Regions from separate parts of the Homo sapiens genome. Here all the other regions are reported to be linked to region 2. The links are microRNA targets in miRTarBase. Many come from high-throughput screens and were not tested one by one. Region 2 holds a microRNA gene; each other region holds the end of a gene's coding sequence.
What was found. The annotated mature microRNA hsa-miR-26a-5p reads UUCAAGUAAUCCAGGAUAGGCU and lies in region 2 at 5,276-5,297, shown strand. An mRNA with a match to its seed (bases 2 to 7 or 8) in the 3' UTR can be bound and repressed. Matches are read on the target gene's strand: a 7mer-m8 pairs with bases 2 to 8, a 7mer-A1 pairs with bases 2 to 7 and ends in A, and an 8mer does both.

Region 1 (7,198 bases), not on the chromosome of region 2:
TGTAGCTCTGCTGTACTTCCTTTAATGCCATCTACTTCCTAAGACACTTCATAAATTTCTGAAGGTTCCAGACTCCCTGGAAGAGAAATGCATTGTCCTAGGCATGCTCTTCTATAAACTGAGAACCATTTCTTATAGTGAAATGTAGTTTGCTTCTGAAGGCTTTGGTGTATTTTAGGAAATTTTTAGCTTATAAAATAATTTGATATACAATTTAATGTTTTATTTGAGAAAATAGGAAATTAGACATTTAGGCATTACTAAAAATGCTGAAATGATTATACCAATACATATTTTAGATATCACTTATTTTTATTTCAAGAGATGCTGAAGTTTCCTGAACTTGAAGTGATTGGCAAATTTTCTAGTCATCTGATACTAAATGACCTGACACTAAGACCAGCTCTAAAAGATGACTGGCAGGATAAATGAAGTAATAAGGATGAATGTTGTGCCTACTAGGTTGTAGGTCTGAAGGATACTTTCACTCACATTTTTTACAAACCTCCTTTCTCAAATAAGCCCTGCTTATTTGATGTTGAGAGCATTTAATCAGATAAATAATCTAACCACTATGTTTGAAATAATTTGTTAAGACCTGAAATGAATTAATTGATTTGATTTTTTTTTGACAGTGCACCCAGAGAAAAGTCTCAGAAAGCTATCCAGGATGAAATCCGTTCAGTGATCAGACAGATCACAGCTACGGTGACATTTCTGCCACTGTTGGAAGTTTCTTGTAAGTATTATACAACTTCTTGTTGAATTAAATTGATTGGCAAAAAGACTAAGCTACTGCCGTAATCACCCCTTTATTAAATTTTGTCTTATTTATCAGATTTATGTAATATAAATTGAAGGAAAAACATTATCATGCAAAAGTAATGTATCGTAGTCTCCCTTTCCACAGGGAGACCCACAGTGAATACCTGAAACCATGGATAGTATGAACCCTATATAATGTTTTTTTCTTATGCATACATACCTATGATAAAATTTAATATGTAAATTAAGCATAGTAAGAGTTAATAATAAACTGGAACAATTATAACAATATGCTGGCATCACTATTCTTGTGCTTTGGGACCATTATTAAATAAGATAAGGGTTACTTGAACACAATCACTAAATTGCACGGAAGTTAGATACAATATTTTCTTTACTGAAATAAATGTTCATTGAGCAAAATAAATTAACTAGTGATTGGAGACCAAGCCAAATGACCTTTTCCAGCAGTGAGTGGTTCAAAATAGAAGAGAGGCAGCAAGATTAGTTTTACTTTTAGAAAATAATATACTTCAATGATCTTATCCCCAATTTAGGTTCATTTGATCTGCTGATTTATACAGACAAAGATTTGGTTGTACCTGAAAAATGGGAAGAGTCGGGACCACAGTTTATTACCAATTCTGAGGAAGTCCGCCTTCGTTCATTTACTACTACAATCCACAAAGTAAATAGCATGGTGGCCTACAAAATTCCTGTCAATGACTGAGGATGACATGAGGAAAATAATGTAATTGTAATTTTGAAATGTGGTTTTCCTGAAATCAAGTCATCTATAGTTGATATGTTTTATTTCATTGGTTAATTTTTACATGGAGAAAACCAAAATGATACTTACTGAACTGTGTGTAATTGTTCCTTTTATTTTTTTGGTACCTATTTGACTTACCATGGAGTTAACATCATGAATTTATTGCACATTGTTCAAAAGGAACCAGGAGGTTTTTTTGTCAACATTGTGATGTATATTCCTTTGAAGATAGTAACTGTAGATGGAAAAACTTGTGCTATAAAGCTAGATGCTTTCCTAAATCAGATGTTTTGGTCAAGTAGTTTGACTCAGTATAGGTAGGGAGATATTTAAGTATAAAATACAACAAAGGAAGTCTAAATATTCAGAATCTTTGTTAAGGTCCTGAAAGTAACTCATAATCTATAAACAATGAAATATTGCTGTATAGCTCCTTTTGACCTTCATTTCATGTATAGTTTTCCCTATTGAATCAGTTTCCAATTATTTGACTTTAATTTATGTAACTTGAACCTATGAAGCAATGGATATTTGTACTGTTTAATGTTCTGTGATACAGAACTCTTAAAAATGTTTTTTCATGTGTTTTATAAAATCAAGTTTTAAGTGAAAGTGAGGAAATAAAGTTAAGTTTGTTTTAAATTTGTCTTAAAACATTTTGATACTGGTTTGGTGTTGATATAGTTAAATGGTAATTAGAATTGATTCAGCATAGCTAATGAATTCTTGTTCCTACGAAGTTATAGAACTTAAGGGTCCAAAGTTGAGTGAGTCTTGAGGTGTCTTCAATCTAATGGATAAACTTTGATCACATCCTGTTCATCTCATAGCAATAGACTTAAGGCTATTACTTCATCATTGTGAAAAGATAAATGTCCTTTGGAATTAGTCCAACAATTCCAGTTGAACAAGTGTTGATTTTAGTACTTTACTATACTCTTAGCCTTATTGTCAGCCTACTTTTCCTTATATACTTAAATACTATGCTTATTCCTGTGCTTTCATTAATACCCTCATCTGGTACATGCTTTCTATCCAGTTCTCACCTGTTTTTCCAAGGTCAGTTTAAGGCAGATTTGTAAAGTCTTCTCTAATCTCTAATCTAAATCTGACCTCATTTTGTAAAAATTCAGTTTATTAATGTTTATTATTAGACACTAAGTTCTTTATGTGTATTAACTTATTTAACCTTCACTATTTTTAAGTAATTGCACATAGTCTGAATCTGTTCATTCAGAAATTACATATTGAGCAAATACTGTGGATCAGTGGCAGTTTCTGGGTTCTCAGTGACAAATTTGTAGACTCTTCATATCTTTATGGAATAAGTGGACCACTGGTGTTACCAACCTAGATGATTTCAAGAAAAGTGGCAATTAAATGCTTCATTTGTATTTTAACTATTTGAGAAGTCAGACTAAATTCTGCGAAATCACTTTTCCCCCCCAAGATGGAGTCTTATTCTGTCGCCCAGGCTGGAGTACAGTGACGCAGCTCAGCTCACTACAGCCTCTGCCTCCCGGATTCCAGCCATTCTTCCGTCTCAGCCTCCTGAGTAGCTGGGATTACAGGCACGTGCCACCACACCTGGCTAATTTTTATATTTTTAGTAGAGAGAGGGTTTCACCATGTTGGCCAGGCTAGTCTTGAACTCCTGACCTCATGATCTGCCCGCCTTGACCTCACAAAGCATTGGGATTACAGGCGTGAGCCACTGCGCCCGGCTGAAATCACATTTTTAAAGGTTGTGTGTATACTCTGGTCATTTCAACTCAGCTACCAATATTAACAGGATTAAATTCTTAGATTTTTGTATCATTTGCATGCTACTATTTACTCTGAGGTTTCTGGAGAGCTAGTCATGATGAGTCATTTTACCCCTTACAGATTATATAATCAATTAAGAAATACACATTTTGGGCTGGGCGCAGTGGCTCGCGCCTGTAATCCCAGCACTTTGGGAGGCCGAGGCAGGTGGATCACGAGATCAGGAGTTTGAGACCAGCCTGGCCAAGATGGTCAAACCCCGTCTCTACTAAAAATATAAAAATTAGCTGGGCGTGGTGGCGGGCGCATCTCAGCTACTTGGGAGGCTGAGGCAGGAGAAATCGCTTGAACCCATGAGGTGGAGGTTGCGGTGAGCCAAGACCGTGCCACTGTACTCTAGCCTGGGCGACAGAGCAAGGCTCCATCTCAAAAAATAATAAATAAAAAAGAAATACACATTTTGGAGCTGAGTGGGAGCCAAACTATGAGTTTTATTGAGGTGAAGCTATACTGGAAAAGCTTTGCCCTGTAGCTCCAAGTGGACTGTCCCATCCTCTTTCTAGACCTTGAGGCTTACCTCAGGAGGATGATGTTTAAATCAACAGCTGAAAGACTTGTGAGTGGTTTCTACACCATGTTAAAGAGAAGGTTCTAAGACAGCATGATAGGCCTCTAGGCCTGGCCTGGACTCTGGCTCAGTGTTGCTTACCATATGTAGAGGATGAACAGAGGTTAAGCCCATCAAGGTCTGAAGTAGAGCCCAGGAGGAACTGAACTGTATCTGGCTTTCAGGATCCTTTTCCCAGTGTCATCAATCAGAGAAGTCAAACCTCTGTGAGAATGCTTGTGCAGAGGTATAACAGTCTCATGTATTGGTTGGCTTTTGCTGCACCTTTCTCATTCTGTTGGAGGGACATTGGTTAGTCAGGACTCTGAAGGCCAGCTTTTTCACACTGACCAAAGCAAGTGAAGGTCAAGCCTAACTTTAATGGGACCAGGAAGTATACTCCTCCCATGGAGGTGGTGGGAATGGCACCGAGAAGTTTGATGACAGTTATCTAATGGACTAGAGGTTGGCAAACTTTCTGTAAATGGCCAGGTAGTAAATAGTTCTGCTTTTGAAGGCATATGGTCTCTTGCACCTACTCGAGGCTGAAAGCAGCTATAGACAATACATAAATGAATGAGCGTGAGTGTGTTCCAATAAGAAAAAAACATGGCTGTTTGCTTCGGCCCCAGGGTTGTAGCTTACCAGTCCTGTAACAGATCACAGTTTGCTCTTTTGGTCACAAATACTTGAACCCCTCCCTAGTTCAGAGCATTTGATACCGTAATATTTAAAGCTCACTTGTAAAACATCGTTTGTTGCCTCCATCCATAGTATCTCAAACAGAATGTCTCTCCCAAATATACCTAAATTCCATATTCTCTGAAGCACAACCAGCTATTTTCTTGACATACTTCCTAACACACCCCACAGTTCACAATTTGATCTGAAAACTTGTTAAGGGAGGTTCTTTGGCATGTGATGCCATAAAAAGAGAGGTATGGGCTCTCCTTTAAAAAAGAGACCCTTTTTATGAGACTCACAATAGGATAAAGAGCCCATGCCTATTTTTAATCATTTTTTCACTATATAGACATGCATGCTGAAAAATGTTTTTATTAGTATAATGCTAATTATACTGACTTCCTATATATTTTAGCATATAGATTCAAAGATTATTAGCACAATAAGGTAGATAACTTCATAGACCATTTCTTCATCTTGTTTTCATTTAGTATGTAAAATTTATCTAAAATTTACATGAAAGATCAGAATAGCTATGTAATGCTACTTTGTAACTCTTATATTTTCCACCAGATGTCACTAATGCTGTAATATTCAAATTAAGATGACTTTCTTTTGGTTCTAAAGGCTGTAAGCTTATTGGAAAAGCAAGGTTACTCAGCATTGGAATTCCTGGCAACAAATATATAAATACATTAGGGGAATAAACACTTAGCATTTATTATTTACTAGTCACTTCACATGAATTTTTATTTAATTCTCATGCTTTTGTGCACAAGTAAAACTGGGGGTCAATGGGCATGCAAATTGTGTCGTGGTTTTTGAAGTTTAGTGGTCTCTCCTATCCCTGGCCAAGGAAGTATGCAAATTGTATTGTGGTTTTTGAAGTTTAGGTGATCTCTTCCTTCTATCCCTAGCCAAGGAAGTTCATCCTGACTCCCCAACAAGCATATCAAAAGGAGTGTTTCGTCACCTTTTTCCTCTTACCCTTTACATCCTTTTAGCAATAAAGTGTTCAGAACAAACTGGTTTTCCTTTACTGTGCTTTGCAAAACTTATTCATGTTTTATTGGGTGACTTTGTATTTACACTTTCCTCAGATAGTCTGTTGTCAGATGACTTTGACCAATGATTGGGAGGAACCAAATACAGAGGATTTTATCCTATGCCTAATCTATATTGTCTACAGAGTAAATCAGGTATGAATTTGTGAACAGTAATGAAACAATTTTCCAACTAATCAGAAGAATTGTTTGTTAAGTAACCTTAATTACTCAGTTTTTGGTGAATTGTTTGCGGCTTAACTTGTAAATAATTTCTTATTCTTTTTTTAAATGTATGAAATATTTCTAGTTATTTTGTTCAATGTGACTGATAAAAGTTTATATTGGAATAGCTGTGAAATGGAAACTGTCTACTCAATTTTAAATTTTATTAGTTATATATTTTTAAAAATAGATCTTTTAGAGATATTTCCATTCTTCATAATTATGACTTTTAAAGCCAGCAGTATTCACTGAGGCTAAAAAAAAAAAAAAAAACAAACGTAGTTGGGCAAGCTACTTAATCTTCATTAGAGTTGACAATTCTGTTCCAATCTGGCAAAAACATTGTAGCCCTAGCAACAAGACTATTAGAAAAGGCCTAGAGTGAAAAATGTCAGAGTTGACCCTCTGATTACACAAGTTGGTTTATGTTACCATGTCACCTATTTTTGTCCTCCACCATGTGATCTATTTTTATACCAGAGAAACATAATATAGTTACATTTACTTGTACAAAGCCCATTTCATCTACATTTATCTGCACCATTTTGCTATGCAAGCTTGTTTGCACAAAGGAACTTACATGAGATCAAAATCTTATTTTCTTGGAATTTTATCTGTGTGGAAAAAGGCATCCCAAATATAAGCTGGACCACCCATAGTCCATTTCCTTGCAAGGGAAAGAGTCCAAACACTTTAAAAAACTTTCTAGATATGGACATATCTAGTGGATGCCTAGACATGGATATGAATTTCTTTCTGAAATGGCAGTCTCACTGACCAAGTACAGATGCTAGTGGTTTTAAAGATTGGGTCTGTGATGTGCAAAATATTTCATATCTAACATGCAGTTATTGGATCACTGTGTTCACACTCATAAGAGTCAGTACAGCTCTTTAAAAACAGGCTGTAAAGCTTACAGCCTCCAAGTCTAGGAAAGGAAATTCATGGGTATTGATCATCTACTGTATGCCAGGCACCACTGAAGTGCTTTACATCTGTTCAGCTGACTCCTAAATGAATGGAGGTTGGGGTTAGTGGGGAAATGGAAGACTTGGGCCACAAGCTGTGGTCTTAGAAACTGATGATGGGACATGGGGAGAGCCATGAGATAAAGGAAATTAAGTCTGAGTTCCAAATGAGGAGTCCTCTGGAGCAAGGAACAGCCCCCAAACCTCAATTTAGGGCTGTGAGGGAGAAGAGGGTGGGGAGAGAAGGACTGCATCCAAAATGGAAATTCTACAACTCCGCTGATGCCTCCATCGCCCCAGAGGAGACCCATAAAGCAAAACCATGAAGAAACACTGGGGAGTCTGAATCCTTTATAGAACATCTTTA
Region 2 (7,198 bases):
CACGAAACAGACCTCCATTGTGACAGTACCTATTATAATTAAATACTCATTCTTGTGTAATCCATTTTAATAATAACTGTAGCCACCAATATATGTGTGAGGCAAAATGCTGGGCATTTTATTGCCATTATAACTGATAACAACAACCTTTCATGGTAGGTATTACTATCCCAATTTACAACCAAGAAAGTGACAGAGCTGATGATTGAAACCAGGTTTGTCTGGTTCCAAAGCCTAGGACTTCATAGCAGTCATTCAGATCGTGGCACCGTATTTGATAAAACTTTAGTTGCAAACTACTTATTCCTATTGTTCTTAATAAAAGCCCATTATACGCTTGACCAGGCATTTAAATGTTTGAAAGTAGTATAATGCAATACTGATTGGTTTGTCTTTTACATAAATGTAATACTGATTTATTTTTCCCCTTTAGCCACCAGCTAAGTACCTTCTTCCAGAGGTGACGGTGCTTGACTATGGAAAGAAATGTGTGGTCATTGATTTAGATGAAACATTGGTGCACAGTTCGTTTAAGGTAAATCAACATAAAAAAAAAATCCATGATCTTTGTGATTTGATAACAATTGTATTGGAAAAGGGAAAACAAAAAGGATGAAAGCTTATGGTGGTTAGTGTGTGACTTCACTCTTCATGTAGAAATCCCAGGAGCTGCTTATTAACCCAGGTGAACATTAACTAAAGTAGTTGAATATTAACATAATTAGTTTGGAAAGAAAACACTAAGCTACCAACATCACTGGGACCTCATTCTTAGGAGGTTTGCATTTTCCAATGCTGTAACCGCTGCAGAAATACTTTTCAGGTGGCACAAGGCACTCAGTGCCCCCAGGATACTGTTTATATTTGTCAAGATGACCAGAGTGCTATGTGTTTTATTGGGAGGGGGAGGGGAGTCTCTGTTGGAAACTGTCAAATGACCTGGTATCATGGAGATTTTCCCAGATTGATTTTTGAAAGATGTCCAACTCTGAAGAAGACTTCCAGACTTCAGGGCATCTGAACAGATTCAGCCATTTAATTTGAGCATCTTCATGACAAGAAGTGGCTGGGGTTTTTTGCAAGCTTCACAGCTAAATGAGTACCCACCTTCAGGACTTCCCTCCTGAAGGGTGTGGAGGTCAGACACTCTTCCTTCCTGTCACCTTCCCTGATCTCCATCTTCCTGCTGGAAAAACAGCAGAAACGGCCTCCATGCAGGAAGAGCTGTGGCGACACTGTTAAGAAATGAGTTAGTTAACCATTTTTTTTTGACGTGAAATAAATTGTATAAAAGAGGCAAATGATGAAAAGTTTGGAAATAGGAGATTGGTGTTTTGGGGAGAAGAAGCAGGTATTTAGGATTCTGGTCTTGTTTTCCTTGGATTATTTCTGGTAATGGGACTGCTCTATCATTGTACTGCATTCCTCTTTCCCCCACCAGCCTGGGACTCCCCTTCACTGAGAGACATGAAGGTCACCATCCATGATGGGGCATGTGTCTCACATGAACCATAGTCATTCCTTACAAGTTGTAGGAAGCAGAAGAGCTGTCAAATGTGCCCAAACACCTTTCTACCAGAAACATCCTTCTTTGTTCTTCTCACTAAACAGAGACCTTTCTGGTAGGACAAAGCCAGAAAATTGTCTTTGAGTCCTTTGAAGAGTGGAGAAGAGACCACACTGACCTCTAGCAGTGAGAAATTGCCTTGTTCTGGCTACTGGGGCATGCAGGGACCACCTCATTCCCTAGCACTTGAGGACCAGCCCCTTCCATAGTTGGTCCAGGGGATATGGTGACTTTGTGTCCCAGCTTAACCCTAGATAGCATTGGAAGCCATTTCTCCCCCATGGGCAAGTTGCTCAGGACTTTTCCAAGTCTCTGTGAAGGAAAGCCCTTCAGAGCAGGGGTCGGTTGCCATCACAGCATAGAGAACTCCCTCCCAAGCAACTGTGGGAGTGTAGGCAACACTGGCCAGATCACCTGATGTTACTGAGGATTCCTGGCTCCAAAGGCAAGGCCCTGGTAGCCCCCAGTGTCTCTAGCACCTGCTCGGAGAGCATTGATGCCACAAGCTAATGTGAATGGTGTTTCCTCATTTCTTCCCTCCCCTGGCCTGCCTACATTTGCAACCAGAATATTCTTTATGGTTTTTAAAGTTCTGGGCATTTCAAAGTCCTTTGAGAATCTGAAAGCTGTGAACCCTCTTCCCTTCGAAAATGTACATTTGTACAATGCATAGGTTCATGGATCCCAAGTGAAGAACCCTAGCTGTAGCAGAGTCTCCTTTATACCAGCAGGAGAGAGGAGAGTAAGGGTGGTGCTTGCTGTAAGCTGGGGAATGGTTTTTCTCTTTTTAATATACTCCGTGGAATGTGATTCCATAATCTAATGCCTTGGGAGAGTCTCTTCCTTCAGTCTTTCCTTTTGTTTTTTAGCATGATTCTGATTTTAGTTGTGCAATTATATGATATTAAACTCATCCTTGGCCTTCCAACTCTGGGAGTAAATAAACAGTGATCATAAGCTAAGTGCTTAGTAACGGTGCTATGACCTAGCATTGTCCATGTTTTTTTGTTTTGTTTTTTGTTTTTTGTTTTTTAGTTTATATATCAACAAAGAGGGTTTGTGTGTACTGTGATGGGCTTAAAAGCAGACTTCGGTTCAGAGTCTGACCAGATGCTGTACCCCTACCCCTGCCCAGAGGCCACCACACACACCTTCTCCTTCCTTCTGTCTCTCTTCTCTTGTCCAGGGGTTTGCAGGCTGATGATTCAGTTGGGCCTGTTCATTTAAGTAGTTTTGTACCTAATTTGTGGAATTCCATTGAGAACTGTGTGTAAGTTCATCATTGAGAACGTAATGACTGCTGAAGAATCATATTTGAATTTTAAATGTCATTAATATTGTCAAAGAGTTATTTAAAATATCCAGAAGTTTGTGGGTGTGCTGGATGTTGTGTTCCTTGGAGCGGAGCAGGCATAGGGTGGGCTGGCTCTGTACCCCCACCCAAGGCAGGAGCTGGTGCCAGGCTACCTGGGAGGGCCTGAAATCACTGATTCTCAGTACTGGACTGGGGCCATGGGCATGCATCAGACCCATCACAATAGCTAAGGAAGAGAGGAGAAACTGAGGTCCAAGGAGAGGAAGAGCCTGCCCAAGGGTGTGGCCTGCGGCCTCTGACTTTACCCCCACATGGCCTTGTTACTGTTTTGAGTCCGTGTGGCCATCTTCTCCTGCTGAGCAGCCCATCGCAGGGCAGCCGCCAGTTGTGGGTCCAAGTACAAATAGTTTTCCCTCAAGCAGCACTGTCCTCGGAGCCCATTACATGCTCAGCTCCTCCCCCTGGTGGCTAGCAGTGATTCCCCATCACCCCAGCAAGACTCTGGGCAAGAGCTGGAGTTTTCAGGAGCCCCATCCTCTAGCCAGGCAGTGCCACACTTTTTGGTTGAGGCCAGGCAGGTGATATTGGACCAAGATGCTGAAAATGTAATGACATTCACAGTGGAAAATAATGTGCTTTCCTGCTTGTGCTTATTTTAAGGAACCAAGGCATGCTTCATCATCCTCCTCCTGAACTGTTTTTTCCAATAACCAAAACATTGGTCTAGGCAGGCTTTTTTCTTGCTAAAATTTCCAGAGTTTTTTTGTTCCTTCAGACATATTAATTATAGTCTCTTTTTTCTCTAGCCTATTAGTAATGCTGATTTTATTGTTCCGGTTGAAATCGATGGAACTATACATCAGGTAAGAAACTGAAGCTAAATTTGAGTTTCAATTAAGATTTTTTAGTACTTACATTTCCTATGAACTTTATTTCTAAATTCTCATTTCAGTAATAACTTTATTACGGAATCAAAAGGAAGCATACTGTAATAAATACAATGTTTTTCTTTTTTTCACTCCAATGAATTTATTTTATACTGAGATTATAAGGAAACTATAGTCGTAAATATTAGATGCGGTTGCAAGTTCAAATAGTTCTTTGATTTGAATTTCAGAAGTTTCCGTATCCCCCACTGGCCTAGCTTGATGGTCTAATTAACTTCCTTGTGTAATTGCTTTCGGCTACTCTCCTAGCAGGCAACAGGAAAATGCCACAAGTCACCCACTTATGGTGGACTCTCGGGAAAAAGTGTCCATTTTCAATGCCAGCTGCTCCAGACTGATCTTATCATTCCTGCATCGTTTTCTCCAGAGAATCTTTAGCAAATACCCACCCCAAAAGAAAAAGGGGGAAGGGTGTGAGTTTTCGGATCCGCAGGCTGCTATGAATAAAGATGCCGTAGTCAGTTGGCATGCGTCTTCGTTGCTTCTGATTTTTTTTCCTTATCTGCATAAAGCTCTTCCGGAAATAACTTCATTTATGAACAAATTGGGAATGTTGTAGGAAAACTAGCTTTAGAGGTTGAAGCTGGGGGGCTTTTGTCAGATTTTCCACAGGGATGATCTAACCATCTTCCTTGTCAAGTCCAAGGTCTTAAAGGGAGCGTATCTGGCCTGATATCCCAGGAAGGAGACTTTCCTGGTACTTGAGCCACAACGGGATGTCTTTTCTTAGCAATGTCAGTAGTCTTTGGTTCTTGAGTGCAAGGTGTCAGAACTGGAGAAAGCTTGGGAATCAGCTGGTCCAGCTGCCTCATTGTCTAGATGGAGAAACTGAGGCTCCGCCAGGGAAGGGGTTGGTTAAAGGTCATACGATGGGAAGAATTAAAATGAAAATTCCAGTCTCCTGCCTCCTGGCCCAGGGCTCTTTTCCTGATACGCAAGTCCCTTCCCTCCCATGTCCTTGCTTTCTTGCTTATTCTCCAGGACATCCTGCCAGGAAACAGTCCCGGGGAGAGGCAGCTTTTTTCCTAGTGTTTCCACACTTCATGCTTTTAAAAGCCATCACAGAGCCAAAACGGCAGGCACTTGGGCATTTAACATTTGCAAAAGCATCAACTGAATTAACTCAGCATCTGAGAAGCAGTTAAGGCTTCTGCATTTATCATCTTGGCTTGTGTTACATAGTGCTCATGATGAGACAAAGGAGAGGCTGCCCAATGGCATAGCAAGAATTAGGAGAGAAATTAATCCTTTGTACCACGTGACTGTAAGCATGACTGGCCTGCCCACTGCTGACCCATTCTTGCAGGAGCTCCCCCACCCTCCATCCTGGCTGTGCTGTGATATCACAAGGTCCCAGGGCTGGGGTCAGAAATTCTCTCCCGAGGGAATGAAGCCACAGGAGCCAAGAGCAGGAGGACCAAGGCCCTGGCGAAGGCCGTGGCCTCGTTCAAGTAATCCAGGATAGGCTGTGCAGGTCCCAATGGGCCTATTCTTGGTTACTTGCACGGGGACGCGGGCCTGGACGCCGGCATCCGGGCTCAGGACCCCCCTCTCTGCCAGAGGCACCAACACCAGAGTTCACAAATCAGTCTCCTGCCCTTTGCATGTAGCAAAGCTTGCTTTCCAAGCAGGACTCCCAGGGTGACTGAGGACTACAGGCCACACCCGTTTGCTGGCAACGAGGAGTCTTGTGGGCAAAGTGGGAGTCTGCAGCTGTTGCAGCCACAGGCCCTGCCCTCAGCCCTACCCCAGCCTCCCAGCTCCTCAGAGCTGTGTTGGCACCCGTGCTACGACATCCTGTTCCTCCAGCCCCTCGCTCCACCCTCAGCCACAAATCCATGTCCACCTCCTTCTTTCAGTCACCCATGAATTTCCCACTGAGTCCTGGCCCTCCTGAGCTCCTGCTTCTGGCACCTTGAAAATGACTTGGTTCTGTATAGAATTCCTCGGCCAGCAGCACACCCAGCATGTGGTGCAGAGCCCTCATCTCCCCTCTGCTGCTCCTCCTGCCATTCTCACCTGCTCCATCTGCCATTCAAGGCCCTAATGTGCCCACTGTGACCTGCCTCTCACTTCATCTTCAGCCACTTCCTCTCCCAGACCCTGCTGCTCCGGCTTCTCTCACTACCTCTGATGGCTGGGCACACAGCCTGGCTACTCTCTAGCTTCTCAAGTATTCTCAGGCCTCGGGTCTCACCCTCTACTGTTTCCTCTGCCTGAAAGCCCACTTCTTCTCAACCTTATTGGCCTGGTGAACTCCTTCAAGGTCCAGGCCAAATGTTATCTTCTATGATCCCCTCCCCTTGTGAGGGGAGTTAATTGTCCTTAATTTATCCCTCTACTACAACTTTCATTATGCCATGTTTATTTTTATATGTTTTTGCCTATGTCTGTTCTAGAGTATGAGCTCTTCAAGGGCAAGGCCTGTGTTTTATTCATCTTTGCAACTACATCAGGCTGAGCTCAGAGCTGAGGCTCAGTAAACATGCTGAATTGAATTTTAAAGAGTTTGATTTATTTTAGTGAAGTGGCTAATTTCAAACGGAATTTATTCAAGTTTGAATTAGTTCTTCCCTCCTCCCACTTCCTCTGTCTTCTCTCACCAGCTTTGCCTTCTCTCCCATCTCCCTTGTTTCCCCAGATTCATTCAGGCTCCCTAATCAAGAACCTATGTATGGTCTGAAGCCTGGCCTCCTCACTGCTACCCCCTGGCCTGGCCTGGTCAAAAGGGTGCACAGAGCCCAGCCATTCTAGAAAAGGCTACTCTTTGCACCCCTCTGCTCAGAGACCCCTCCTGATGGATTATGTCTGGGGTCCAGGAATAGCGATGGTTTCACATCCCCTGAAACATACCAAGCCCACCCTTTATGGTGTCATAGACAGCTTCCCAAGCTGACAAGGAAGCCCCTTCTTGCAGCTTTGCTGGGCCTGTGCTTCAACCCCAGACCTTCCTAGTAAGGGGGATGTCCATCCAGAACAGAAGGTGGCAGCCGGAGCAATCCCAGACCTGCTGGGCAATATGCTGGGCCTGGACCTCTGAAAGGACAACACCCAGACCGTGGCCCGTGCCCACACAGGTCCTGACCCTCAGCAGGTGCCAAGAAACACACGTGAAATGAATGAGTCATTACACACAAACATGGTACAACCCTTCCATTTGCTGGCCCTGAATATCCCCAAGACCCTCACACCATGGTCAGCTTCTCTTTTTCCCTTAGGAGGGGCGTCTGCAGTGAACTCAGACCTGGAGCCCTGTCTGAGGAGTGCCACGTCTGACTCCATAGCCCCTCATACAGTCTAGGCCTCTGCCTGCTATGCATAGACCTGGGGGAGGGAGGCAGGAACCTTTGTAGCAATTCTTCCTACAGT
Region 3 (7,159 bases), not on the chromosome of region 2:
GGGGATAAAATTGGAGGTGGCAATATCGTGACAACAGGAGTCCCAGGAGCAGAGAAAAATAAAAATGGAAAAGTGGGTCTATTTTGTGAATGAATGGCTGAGCATAGGACTCCAAGTGACCCAGGCAAGCTGAGCTCCCCATGGTGAGTTGTGTGTTAACTGTCTCATCAAGCCACGAAGTTATCTATGTGCAGTAGCACTCCACCACCGAATAGAATAGAGTTATACAAGCAGGCCTAGATGATGAATAAGCTGCCTGAGCAAGTGAATCATACTCCCAACTGCTGTACTGCCATCCCTCTCTCACCCACACCTGAAGCCTCATGGGGAATTCCCTGTGACCAGGTGACTAAGGGATACAATATTCTATTCCAGCTTGGTTTATACATAGCCCTGCATGATATGCTGGCCCTGCTGAAGTAGCTAGCTGTAGTGTTACAGCCCTACTTAGGGTTGATCCTGAAGGACAGTGAGAAGGGAAATTCTCCCAGTAGAACAACTGCCTGGTCACATAGCTGGTCAGAGGTATAGATAGGTTTCCACTGTTTCATGAGTAGTTTTTAATGATTCGGCTAAATGGTGAAGGACTTGGAAATAACAGGACTGAAATATTATTGACAAGGTCTGAGGAAGAGCATATGGCTGTCCCTCTTGGAATGGGCAGAGATATTCACGTCCCACATAAATAAGCACCAGAGAGAGTCCACTGCAGAAGAGGAGCTCAATCAAGTAGACAGGTAGGTGTCCTGTTCTGTGATGTCAGTCAGCCTCTTATCTGTCACCCTTTTCTTTGCCCAATGGATTCCTGAACAAAATGGCCATGGTGGCAGGCATGGAGGTTATGCATGGACTCCACAATATGGACTTCCACCACGACCAATCTGGCTATAAGCCACTGCTGAGTGCCCAACCTGCCAACAGAACAGTAACCCAAGCCCCCCTGTGGAACTATTTCTTGGTGGCAGCTGATTACAGACAAGACAAAATGAAAAAAAGCCACTGGACCCCCAAAATTCTACTGGCAGGAAGCAAACTGGGGAAACAGTTCAGCTGCAAACATTTGCTGCCTTTCATGAAAAAGGAAGGCACACAGGGTAAAACCAAGAGATCAGAGGGCAGAGCCTTAGAATATTATTCCCAGGCCTTGACATCTAATCAAGAAACTTCCATTTTCCCAGCTGGATTTCAGAGTTGTTAGTTATAGACCAGTAACTCCTTTATGTCTCCCATTTCCCCTCTTTTTGAACCAGAATGTCTGTAGTAGTTGTCCTATGGCTATCCCACCATTGTACCTAGGGTGTGTTGGGGACAGATAACTTGCCTCTTAAGTCTCACAAATCAGCCAGGCACGGTGGCTCATGCCTGTAATCCCAGCACTTTGGGAGGCCAAGGTGGAAGGATTGAGCCCAGGAGTTTGAGAACAGTCTGGGCAATATAGTAAGATCTCGTCTCTATAACAAAATAAAAATAAAAAATAATTTTCTTTTTTTTTTTTGAGACGGAGTCTTGCTCTGTAGCCCAGGCTGGAGTGCGGTGGCGTGATCTCGGCTCACTGCAAACTCCGTCTCCCGGGTTCAAGCGATTCTCCTGCCTCAGCCTCCAGGCGCCCACCACCACTCCCGGCTAATTTTTTGTATTTTTAGTAGAGACGGGGTTTCACCGTGTTAGCCAGGATGGTCTCGATCTCCTGACCACATGATTCGCCCGCCTCGGCCTCCCAAAGTGCTGGGATTACAGACGTGAGCCACTGCACCCGGCCAAAAAATAATTTTTTACAAAAAAACAATTGTCTCACAAATCTAAAGATGGAGAAAAATAGTAGTTAAGAAGCCATACTCAAACAGCCTCTTTCATATATGGACCTGATTTAGATGTTCTGGATTTTGGGGCAATGCTGTAATTGGATGAGACTTTGAGAGACTTTGGGAAGTGGTGAATGTATATTGCATGTGGAAGCAACATGAATCACCAGGACCAGTGGAAAAACTATAGTTGTCAGTCTCCAAGATGACCCCCAATGACCCCCCGCCTCCTGGTATTCACACCTTTGTGTAATCCCCTCCCATTGAGTGTGGCCTGGACCTAGTAACTGACCTACTTTTTTTTTTTTTGAGACGGAGTTTGCACTTGTTGCCCAGACTGGAGTGCAATGGCGCGATCTTGGCTCACCGCAACCTCTGCCTCCCGGGTTCAAGCAATTCTCCTGCCTCAGCCTCCTGAGTAGCTGGAATTACAGGCACCCGCGACGACACCCAGCTAATTTTGTACTTTTAGTAGAGATGGGGTTTCTCCATGTTGGTCAGGTTGGTCTCGAACTCCTGACCTCAGGTGATCCGCCCGTCTCAGCTTCCCAAAGTGCTGGGATTACAGGTGTGAGCCACTGTGCCCGGCAGTAACTGACTTACTTCTAACGAATAGAATATTGCAAAAGTGATGGGATCTCACATCTGAAATTAAGTTATAAAGACTATGAGTTCTGTCTGGCATGTGGGCACTCTCCTTCTATCTCTAGCTCATCTTACTTGTTTGCTGTGATGAAGCAAGCTGCCATATTATGAGCCACCCTATGAAAGGGTGCACATGGCAAGGAACCTGAGAGTGACCCCCAGCCAACAGCCAGCAAGACTGAATATGCCAACAGCCACATGAGTCAGCTTGAAAGCAGATCTTTCCCCAGTCAAGCCTTGAGATGACTGTAGCCCCAGCTCACACCTTGCTGGCTGTGAGACCCTGAAACAGAAACTCAGCTAAGTTGTGCCCAGATTCCTAACCACAGGGACTGTGAGATAAAATGTTGTTTTAAGCCACTGTTTTTGAGATAATTTGTTATGTAGCAAATATATAACCAATAGAGATAGGCGTGGAGGTTATGTACCTCGGCAATATGAACTTCTAACCTACCAAGGCCACTGTGGCCCTAGCACTGCTGAATTCCCAACCTACCAACAGCAGAGATCAACACTGAGCTCCCACTGTGAACTATTTCCGGATTGCAGGCTGATTACTTTGGACCCCTTCTGTCTAGCACAGGCCTTAGGGTCACAGAGATTTGGTGAAAATCCCAGCTCTGCCAGGCTGATATGCTTAGGTGAGGCCTGTTTTCCTAGGGGTCTGTTTCCTGTGTCTGTTGGGGACTTTGTGAAATACCTCACATGGAGCTGAGCACCCAGGTGGAGGTTCACAAGGGGCTGTTCCCCTTCCTTTCATGTGAGTGCCCAGGGGCAAGAACCCTGTTCCTCTGCTTCCTAACCCCTCTTCTCCCATCACAATTTCAGGTCTTCTGGGAAGCATGGTTAGTGTCTGCCCCTTCAAGGACCCACTGACCATGTACCTCAGACCCCAGGCGCCACTCCCAAGGGGTGGTATCCTGTACCACTGGACTCTGCAATGCAAAGGAAACAGAGTCATATGCACAGTGTGGAGCCCCAACTGATGCTCCTACCTCCTTCTAAGCTAGATTGCGGGCCCTTGGCCTGGAAGTGGAGACAGACTGAGGCCTGGGCCTTGCCTTCCCTCCAGAAGCTCCAGAGCTTGGGGGTGGGAGGAGAGACAGACCTATTAATCTTAGTGTGTTTCAGACACCAGGTAAGGCACAGGTGGAGACACTAAGGAGAAGGGGAAGAAGGGTTCAGTTGGGCCTGAAGGGTTTGGGTAAAGTCCTTAATAGAAGTGATGTCTCTTTCCATCCCCTTGTCACCTGCAGATTCAGGAGCCATCCTGAGGGATGTGGCAACATTTGGGAGGACTCGGCAGCTAGGTGATATCTCTATAATAGAAAATGACTTTGAGGTGAGAAGATACCCACTGCTTCCCTGACCTCATTCTCCCCAGCCCCTTATCTGAGGGGGAGGGTGTCCCCTGAGCCAGTCCCCCTCCCTTTCTAGGGGAGTATCTGGGAAAGAGGGCAGATTTGGAACCAGAGAAAGCTCTCTGGAAGAGGTTAGATTTGATCTGGGTCTTGCAGGATGATGGCCAGGGCCTCTCCTGCAGAGTTCATGGAATGCATGTCTGCTGTGAAGGAGTGTGTGAGGGATGGGACACAGACGTGCCAACATGGTAAAGGCTGTCTGAAAACTGGTGAAGGATGGGCCTATACCAGGGAGGCCTCCGTCCTGGGCCAAGCAGTTCTCTAACCTGGGAGTTGCTTCAGGTTGTAGGCACCATCTCTTCCTCTCCTGTCTGGACACTTCCTGTGGCTGACTGCCTTGGCAGTGGTAGTTAAGTGCTGAGATTGAGCCCCTTCCTGCCCATCCCAGCTCTCACACTCATCTCTCCTGTCAGCTCCTCCAACCCCCTTTTCATGATCAATTCCAGCCAAAAGGTCAGCCTTTTCCCCTAGACTGAGACCTGGGGTCAAGCTGGACCCGGCAGGGTTGTCCACGGACTCCTCTCTCTCTCCTTACTTGTATAGCCTAGGGTCCCAACTGGAAGACTAGATGAAGCAGGGCTGAGCCAGACCTTCCCACCAATCAAAGCTGCCAGAAGAGGGCGGGCTTTCTTATTTACCACTAGGTTCCTATCAGCTGCAAATATTGGGAAGGGGGAATGAAACCCATGAACGTTCAGATGAGAAAGCAAAATAAGAGTGGCAGTGTGCTAAGCTCCTGGGCTAGGGATCAGGACCCAGCCTTTAGCCTCCTCACAGCCCCTTGAGAGGACGGAAAGCCCTTGAGGCAGGCATGATAGGAAGCTGACTGGCTTAGGGCTTCCATACTCTTGCTTCCTCCTTTGTATCCTCGTATCATGGGCAGACTCCAAACACAGAACACTCAAGACCACAAAGAATGGTTCTTAGCCTTTGGAGGGTCAAGGATCCCTTTATGAATCTGATACAAGCTGGTTAGTCTTCTTGTCAGAAAAACACATGCATGCAAACACCCACAAAAACATGTAAACAATCTGTTGATGGTCCCTGATTTAGTCCAGCACCCTCATCTTAAAGACTTTGGGACTCAGAAGAGAGATCTTTCCAACTACTATGGGACCATTAATGGGCTTGAAACCACTTTGCTAAGTGAAAGAAGCTAGACACAAAGGATCACATATTATACGATTCCATTTATGTAAAATGTCCAGAATAGGCAAATGGGATGAGGGGTAAAGGACGCCTAAGGGATATGGAGTTTCTTTCTGCAGTGATGAAAATGTTCTGAAATTTTTTTTCGAATGATGGCTGCACAACTCTGAATATACTAAAAGCTATTTAATTGTATACTTTTAAGTGGGTGACTGTATGGTATGTACATTATATATATCAATAAGCTGTCTTAAAAAAGTGAACTCAGGGGTTGCAAATGACCACACATCTGAGCTTTAGTCCCCATTCATCAGGGGCATAACCTGTGGAGAAAAATCAGGGAATTATGCAGTAGATGGGTTAGACAGGAAAACATTCTAGGAAGAACGAGATTCTATGTATAATCTTAAGGGCAATAAAGCATCATGGAAGGTTTTAAGCAGTATATAATCAGATCTACACTTTAGAAACCCCCCAAATCACTGAATTGTACATTTCAAACAAGTGAATTTTATAGTATGTAAATTATATCTCAATAAAGCCATTAACAAAAAAATCCCTTTGGGAGCTTGAGGAGGATAAACTGGAGGGCATCAACTGGGGGAGGTTGTAGTGTAGGAGTTTGGGTGAGGGGGCCCGAGCCCATCTGTTTGGACTTGAGGGAAAGTGGCTTGGGGTTAGAGTCGGGGGAGGATCAGAATGTCTTGCCCAAGGTTAAGAAGCTGGTGGAACTTGATTTCAGAACCCAGAGCTCCCTGGCTTCAGCCCTAGTGCTCCTGCCAGCACTACAGCTGCTCCACTGACTGGTGATGGAAGCACTGTCTTCCCCGTCTAAGAGAAATGCACTTCAGAAACATGTTTCCAAAAAATGTTTCTAAGGGTTTTATTTCTAACAAGAGGAAAATAATAAAATAAAATTAAAATAGGCTTCAGTTGGAACCAAGTTTCTTGTTTTGCTTTTTTTTTTCTTTTGAACAAATTAATTACACACCAACAATCTTCTTTTATTACAACATGAACCCAGGAGGAGGAAAGGAGACAGGGGAGGACAGGGAGGGAGGACTGAGGTGGTTGTGAGGACAAGCACCAAAAGCTTTCTTCAGATCACAGGGAGCCCTGTTCAGCTCCCCAGCCAAATTCCTTTAAAATAAAAAACTGTGAGCACGGCTATGTGAAGTTTCCTCCTCCTGGGTGGAACAGTCAGGGGAAGGGAGAGGGAGAAGGGGGTAGGAAGGAAGGAAAAGAGGGGAGGAGAGTGGGGGCAGGGGTTAGTGTAGCATGGCCTGGCCAGGACCAGAACTGGGGAGAGAAGGGAGGAGAGTCCCCCAGTTTGCATATACACTGGCCTTGTCTCTGGAATGGTGATGGCCCAGCCCCAGCCACCCCCCTGCCCACCAGCCCATCCATCTATCTGCCTCAGGTGTCTGGGAATGCTGGTTAGAGGCTACCAGGGAGGGAAGACTCCAGGGGCCGGCCCCCAGGAGCTGAGGTCTGAACAATACCTTGGAGTCAGAATACAAAAGTCAAGGGACTCAGGGGTGGGCGGGTAGCAGGGATGGCCACCCCCCTACCCGCCCACCCCCCAAGAAGCAGGCTTGATGGTCAGAAAGAGGATCCTTGAGGCCGAGGGGGGTCTCTGTCAGGGTCTGTGCTAGGCTCAGCCACTGTCACAACTGTTGCTGAGGCGGCTGCTGTGGGCAGGGCAGATGCAGCCGGGGAGTCAGAGTGGAGAAAGGGGCCGAGGGGCCTGAAGTGGTCCCTTCCGCCGGTTCCAAGCCATTCTGGTTCTCCTGGGTGCTGGGGCTGCCAGTGGTGGGGATGGGTGCAGGGGGGCCCTCACCCCCAGTCTCCTCCTCCAGCTCTTCCTCCTCCTGGACCTCCTCAGCCTCTGGCCCTGAGCTCCGTACCCTCTTTGGCTCTAGCTCCTCTCGGGCTGGGTCATCGCCCTCCCCACCCCGATCCACCTTCCGCCGCCGCCGCCTCTCCAGGGCCCGGCCCCGAGCCCGACTCCCGTGACGCTCTGCCTTCTCCAGCTGTGATTACAGACAGGCAGAAAGACAGGTTGTGGGCCAGTGGTCAGGCCTGGGCTCCCTACTCGGCCTGACCTCCTGGCCCGGCCCATGACCCCTCTCCTCACCTCCA

Region 1: miRTarBase lists MAD2L1 as a target of hsa-miR-26a-5p. Seed matches in the 3' UTR shown: 7mer-A1 at 2,043-2,049 and 8mer at 4,598-4,605.
Region 3: miRTarBase lists KDM5C as a target of hsa-miR-26a-5p. The part of its 3' UTR that is shown has no 7-base or 8-base seed match.

Annotation. Positions count from the first base shown.
Region 1 is chr4:120,054,415-120,061,612 of GRCh38, reverse strand. It overlaps MAD2L1 (mitotic arrest deficient 2 like 1), which reads left to right. Exons shown (of 5, transcript NM_002358.4): 4 at 636-739; 5 at 1,323-5,990. The coding sequence ends at 1,495. Among named protein-coding and RNA genes, the nearest start is that of MAD2L1, 8.8 kb to the left of the region's middle.
Region 2 is chr3:37,964,138-37,971,335 of GRCh38, forward strand. It overlaps MIR26A1 (microRNA 26a-1), which reads left to right and starts at 5,267; the gene lies at 5,267-5,343. It overlaps CTDSPL (CTD small phosphatase like), which reads left to right. Exons shown (of 8, transcript NM_001008392.2): 4 at 434-535; 5 at 3,689-3,745. RefSeq lists enhancers at 4,937-5,500, 5,501-6,062.
Region 3 is chrX:53,186,283-53,193,441 of GRCh38, forward strand. It overlaps KDM5C (lysine demethylase 5C), which reads right to left. Exons shown (of 26, transcript NM_004187.5): 25 at 7,155-7,159; 26 at 5,876-7,050. The coding sequence ends at 6,685. Among named protein-coding and RNA genes, the nearest start is that of MIR6895, 5.6 kb to the right of the region's middle. RefSeq lists a silencer at 2,637-2,716 and enhancers at 2,897-3,176, 3,547-3,596.